Homo sapiens: one gene and its partner. The protein of the gene in region 1 purifies or fractionates together with the protein of each later gene. This does not show direct contact. Each region holds a gene or a part of one and is shown in the gene's direction. Other genes may lie near its edges.

Region 1 (2,875 bases):
AAATATCTGGTTTCAAATTTCATAAGGAAAAAATGTTTGACTCATTTGGTTGAAGAATTCTTGGAGAAATGGAGTATTTTAAAATAAGACAAAGTTTGGGTTATGGGGTAAGTTTTGTCGTGAGTAGGGAAGAGCTCAAAGACAGCTTGTGGTGCTTGTAGAGTAGTCTCTAGTCAGACCTAGGTTTGAAGGAAGCTCAGCCCCTTATCTAGTCTTTGCAACTTGGGTTAGTTTCTAACCCAAAAAAGCGGTTTAAAAGTAATGTAGCCTCTATCTAATAGGAAAGCTAAAAGGATTCAGTGAGTTAATACATGTAAAGCTCTTTTAGAAGAGTGACTTGTACACAGAAATTGTTCAGTAAACGTTGTAATTCATTTTCACAGAGAATAGTGGGATTATATGGTTTATCACACTTCGGTAAGCTTGGGCATATTTCAAATTTCAGTAACATTACTGAATGGGGGGTGGATCTTGTATCAGTGTAAAGTCAGGAATTTGTGATTAGAAAGAGTATGCCTTGTGAGTCTGACACCACTGTCACCACTACCCCTGGAACTCTTGATGTAGCTTTAATGGAAACAAGAACATTTTAGAGGTTTTGAAGGTGACAGGGGAGAGAATAACAATATATTAGTGGTTCGCCTTTAAGTTGGAACATCAGACTGAACCTATATAATGTATCCTAGTGACAAAGCATTTCTGGATACTAAAATGGTGGCAAGGTTTAGGATATGAGTGGTTTTTTATCCCCACTAAAAACAGGTGAAAAATGCTTTTGTCCCTACAGGTTTACCTGCTAATGCAAGTTTAGAAGAATTTGACAAAGTCAGTAAAAATGTTGATGGTTTTTCACCAAAGCCAGTGACTCTTTTGGCCTCATTATTCAAAGTACAAGATGATGTCACAAAATTGGATTTGAGGTTGAAGATCGCAAAAGAGGAGAAAAACCTTGGCTTATTTATAGTTAAAAATAGGAAAGATTTAATTAAAGCAACAGATAGTTCAGACCCATTGAAACCCTATCAAGACTTCATTATAGATGTAAGTATATACTAGGCTTGGTCAGAAATATGAAGTATCGTCACGAATTTAGAATTAATTTATTAAAACTAAGATCTACAAATCTGTGAATTTTACTTATTTTAAATGAAAAAATTTATGTTGAGTATTTAAATTTTAGGATAAGATTGTAAGTGTATGTTTTCATGTGTGACGAAACTAAATGTTTGATTTTGACACGTAGTCTAGGGAACCTGATGCAACTACTCGTGTATGTGAACTACTGAAGTACCAAGGAGAGCACTGTCTCCTAAAGGAAATGCAGCAGTGGTCCATTCCTCCATTTCCTGTAAGTGGCCATGACATCAGAAAAGTGGGCATTTCTTCAGGAAAAGAAATTGGGGCTCTATTACAACAGTTGCGAGAACAGTGGAAAAAAAGTGGTTACCAAATGGAAAAAGATGAACTTCTGAGTTACATAAAGAAGACCTAAAACTGATGGCTACTAAAAAGCAGAGCATTTCTGGTAAGACTAAATTTTCTCCCCTCCCTCTTAATGAGGTTTTAGAGACTACACCAGAATAAAAGACAGTTTAGGGGACCTCTGTAGAACAACAAGGGTCTTATTTTGTGAATTATATATTTCAAGAACTAAACAGAGATCCACCTTTCTGGATCTGATTTATATCACTGAAATGTACAGTTCTTTTGGAATAGTTTCACCTGAGAAAACATAGTTGGCTATTATCTATCTTAACCTGTTCAGGCTTTTAAAAAAAACTGTTTTTGCATAGGGTAGTACTAAGATCTTAAAAAGTGGTAACTGTCTTGAAGAAAAAACGTTTATTGTTTGTTTGCAATTGAAATAACAGGGTTACCTTAACAATGACTGTCTATGATGTGTCAGTTCTTATCTGAATTCCAAAATAAACCTGTGCTTAAAAAAGAAATAATTGACCAAGTAAGTTTGCATAAAATGTGAATACTAAATGTGTCCCCAGTTGCTGGCATTCATATGTACAGGATTTGTTCTAGCAAGCTATGCTTCAGTATGTGGTTGATATTTTTCTGTCACAATGATTTCTTTATGCATGCAGAGCCTGGGGAAGTCATGGGATTAACTTGAGGGTCACTATTGAGCCTATTAATTAATTATTGTTTTAATAAAACAAACATTGGTATTGGAAGATAAATATGTTTATGTGGTATCTGACAATGTGTATTAGGTGTCATATACAATGGTAATATGCCTGTCTTTAAAGTGTTATTTTATTAATTAAAAGGATATGGCTATTATTATATATTCTCTAAAGATTTGAGTCCTAAATGCTTTCATCAGGTAAATAAAATGTATAATACAAACTGTTTATTTCAGCTGCTATAATTTCAGCTGCTATACTGACATTTCATAATTTATTTCCTTTCTGTGTAGCCAGTCATAACATCTTTGTACTCTATGAGCAAATAGTAATTTTGGACCTTGATAAAACAATTTTGTAGAGTGTAATATTTCTAAGAGGAAATGTCACAGGGGCTATGATGCAAGAAAGCCTCAGAAATGACTGCATACAGGTCAGTAATTAGATGCATTATAAAATAATACTTTGAAATACTTACTTAAAATATTTAAGTACTGCCAAAATACAGATTTAGACCCAACGTCATATAATACATACTATTTCTGTATAGAAAGTATGCAGATTTAGCTATCAGGTCTGGTTTTGTCATGTGTAAAACCATTTTCAGTAGTAGTATAGTATATGTGTGTTTTTACAGATCAGAAAATTTTATTTGCTAGTAAACGGTATGGGACATACTGAAATTTTAACTTTTCAGAGGGACAAGGTAACTCATTGCAACTGGTTTAGAGTTCAGC
Region 2 (3,583 bases), on another chromosome or scaffold:
CCTCAGCCTTCCAAGTAGCTGGGACTACAGGTGCGCACCACCATGCCTGGCTAAATTTTTAAATTTTTGTAGAGATGGAGTCTCACTGTGTTGCCCAGGCTGGTCTCAAACTCCTGGGCTCATGTGATCCAACTGCCTTGGCCTCTGAAAGTGCTGGGATTAGAGGCATGAGCGACTGCACCCGGCCCCAGCCTCTCTGTTGTTGTTTTTGTTGTTTTTGTTTTTGTCCAGAACCCAAAGGGAAAAAAACCTCAAGGGGGCAGCCCTTCCCTTGAGCAGCAGATGCTGGCTCAGTGGCCAGGCTCTATGCTGAGGACACATTCGGAAACGGCCTGATACTTGCCGTCCGAAGCAGAATTTCAACTTGAGAGAGGCATGTCCCCTTAAGTGGGTGAGGGGCATTCCAGAATCTTCCAGGCTGGGTGGGGTGGGTACGTGGAATTTGAAGACGCACATTATTACAATTTTTCTATTTGGGAAATGGGAAAAGCACTTCGTGGAAATTACCAAACATGAAGTTTGACAGTTCTTGCTTGGGGGAAATACATGTAAGATGTAGCGATTCGGACCTTTCTGGTGATCAAAAGCAGACCCGTGTTACACATGGTTGGGGAGCACCGTCTGGCGGGAGAGGCCCCGGTGAACACACAATCCTAGTGTGCGGTGGTGAGGCAGCGGTGGAGGGAGGGAGGGCAGGCGGGGGTCCTAGAAGGGGAGCCAGGAGGGTCTTTGTGGGCAGCTACGGAAAGTGTCACAGTGGAAGCGACATTTGATAAGGCCTTGAGAGATGGGTAGGGATTTCTCTGTGGGATAAGGAGGTGCACGGCTATTGCAGGCAGAGGGGCCAGCCTGTGCTCAGAGCAGGCCCACAGAAAAGCCTAGCATGTGGGCACAGGAAGGAGGTGGGAGAAAGGGGTTGACAGCTTGCCAGGTGCTTCTGGGAAGGGCTCTGGTTGAATGACCCAGGGATTTAAATGAACTTGATACCTGTTTTCTAGTTGTCTGATTCAGCATGAGTTCCTGATGTTCAATAGGGATACATTTGGGGTCAGGAATTCTCCCCCAGTTGAGAAAACTGGACCAGATGCTTGGAGTCAGGCCTGGGCCTGGCCCCTGGTTCAGTGCTGGCACCCCACTGCCCTGCGGGAGAGTCACGTTTCACACCCTGGTGTGTTTCAGGGCCCTGCCGAGCCTGGATATCGTAGTGTGGTCGGAGCTGCCCCCCGGGGCGGGCTTGGGCTCCAGCGCCGCCTACTCGGTGTGTCTGGCAGCAGCCCTCCTGACTGTGTGCGAGGAGATCCCAAACCCGCTGAAGGACGGGGATTGCGTCAACAGGTAACCATGGTCCTTACCTGGCCAGTGTCCCTCCCGCACGGCAGGACAGGGACGTGGCTTCTCTCACTGAGACCTCACCACCTCCCTGTGAGGTGAGAGGTGTCATAGTGGCCATTTTAACATGAGGAAGCTGAGCCCCGAGAGGTCAAATGGCTGGCCCAGGGCCACACAGCTAGTGCTGGCAGAGTGGGATTTGAACTCAGAGTCTGAGCTTTTCTCTCCTGCTCTCCACCACCTCTGCTCACCCCCATCTTGGCTCTGTTGGTTTCAAGCGCCCATGGTATGGTAGAAAGAGCTGGAGTCCAGATCTAGAGGGCAGCAGGTTAGATGAACCCTCCCACCTCTGCATTGACTCAGGCTAGGACAGTGTTCTCCTCTGTATGGTAATGACAGTGCCCTAGGGGTGATTGTCCAGTTTTACCACATGGTTATGAAAGAAACTAAGAGTTTGCTGAGAAATCCACATTAGGGGGTGTGCCCATTAGACTAGGGCATCTCTCCTCCTACGGGGCCGTCTCCACGGAGGGCGTGTCACCTCTCTGCGTTCCTATTGACCACGTGAGTCAGTGAGGCCTGTCCAGACAGGCTTGACCACAGACCATTTCTATCATTAGGAGAATGTTCCTTGAGAAACCACCCAGTGCGCAGAGGTTACGCAGTTTGTCCCAGGACCAGGAGTTGTGGATGAGGCCCCCAAATGCAGAGCTCTGTCCTCTTCCTGGGCTTGTTTTTGTTTTGTTTTGTTTTGTTTTCTGAGCTTGGTTTTTTTGTTTGTTTGTTTGTTTGTTTGTTTGTTTGTTTTTTGAGATGGAGTCTCGCTCTGTCACCCAGGCTGGAGTGCAGTGGTGTGATCTTGGCTCACTGCAACCTCTGCCTCCAGGTTCAAGTGATTTTCCACGGGCCAAAGGACTGGCCCTGTCTTTCAAAAGGTGGAGGGTGACTGTGTGTGTGCACTTGCATGTGTGTGTGTTCTTATGCTGCTTCTAACCATTTCTCCCACCTTCCCCTGAAGGCCAGTCATTCCTTCTCAGAACCCTTAGGGAGAGTAGACCTCCCACCCCACCCCACCCCACCACACCCCACCCATCATGTGTTTCTGAGTCGGAAAGGACTGGAGCCCAGTCTCCTTTGAAGACTCAAATCTGAGCCCCCTAAAAAACAAACTGTGTAGAGCAGGAGGAAGACTCACATTTGTTGAGAGGGCCAGGCCCTGGGCTAGGTCAGCTGCCTGAGTTACCTTCCCCCGCCTCCATCACTCACTTCATCCCAGGCACGCTGCCACCTGTTGGTCCCTGGGAAGGGCCAGCCAGCTCTGGTGTGGTTCCAGTGCTGCACAAGTGGTGTGTCTGGAATGCACCCCACACACACACCTTGCCCAGCTGGCTCCCCTTGTCCTTCAGGCACCACCACCCCGCCCCAGCCCCCAGCAATTCAGCCCATCGTACTCTTACAGAAACACCTGGTTTGTTTTTGTTTTTGTTTTTTTAACTATATTATCATTTATTAAATGTAATTAGGTAGCTCTGGATCCTTGGTCTGTTTTTTTTTTCTTTTATTATTATTATACTTTAAGTTTTAGGGTACATGTGCACAATGTGCAGGTTAGTTACATATGTATACATGTGCCATGCTGGTGTGCTGCACCCATTAGCTCATCATTTAGCATTAGGTATATCTCCTAATGCTATCCCTCCCCTCTCCCCCCATCCCACCACAGTCCCCAGAGTGTGATGTTCCCCTTCCTGTGTCCATGTGTTCTCATTGTTCAATTCCCACCTATGAGTGAGAATATGCGGTGTTTGGTTTTTTGTTCTTGCGATAGTTTACTGAGAATGATGATTTCCAATTTCATCCATGTCCCTACAAAGGACATGAACTCATCATTTTTTATGGCTGCATAGTGTTCCATGGTGTATATGTGCCACATTTTCTTAATCCAGTCTATCATTGTTGGACATTTGGGTGGGTTCCAAGTCTTTGCTATTGTGAATAGTGCTGCAATAAACACACGTGTGCATGTGTCTTTATAGCAGCATGATTTATAGTCCTTTGGGTATATACCCAGTAATGGGATGGCTGGGTCAAATGGTATTTCTAGTTCTACATCCCTGAGGAATCGCCACACTGACTTCCACAATGGTTGAACTAGTTTACAGTCCCACCAACAGTGTAAAAGTGTTCCTATTTCTCCACATCCTCTCCAGCACCTGTTGAGAAACACCTGCTTTGAAGTCACATATTGCAGTGT

The links.
Region 2: the proteins of TRNT1 (region 1) and MVK purify together in Homo sapiens (affinity purification with mass spectrometry; one large-scale study listed by BioGRID and IntAct). This does not show direct contact.

What each region holds. Positions count from the first base shown.
Region 1 is NC_000003.12:3,146,663-3,149,537, forward strand, and holds the end of TRNT1 (CCA tRNA nucleotidyltransferase 1, mitochondrial), read left to right. Parts: intron 1-787; coding exon 788-1,041; intron 1,042-1,243; coding exon 1,244-1,492; 3' UTR 1,493-2,361; downstream 2,362-2,875. UniProt on the Homo sapiens protein: Nucleotidyltransferase that catalyzes the addition and repair of the essential 3'-terminal CCA sequence in tRNAs, which is necessary for the attachment of amino acids to the 3' terminus of tRNA molecules, using CTP and ATP as substrates. tRNA 3'-terminal CCA addition is required both for tRNA processing and repair.
Region 2 is NC_000012.12:109,580,216-109,583,798, forward strand, and holds part of MVK (mevalonate kinase), read left to right. Parts: intron 1-1,179; coding exon 1,180-1,335; intron 1,336-3,583. UniProt on the Homo sapiens protein: Catalyzes the phosphorylation of mevalonate to mevalonate 5-phosphate, a key step in isoprenoid and cholesterol biosynthesis.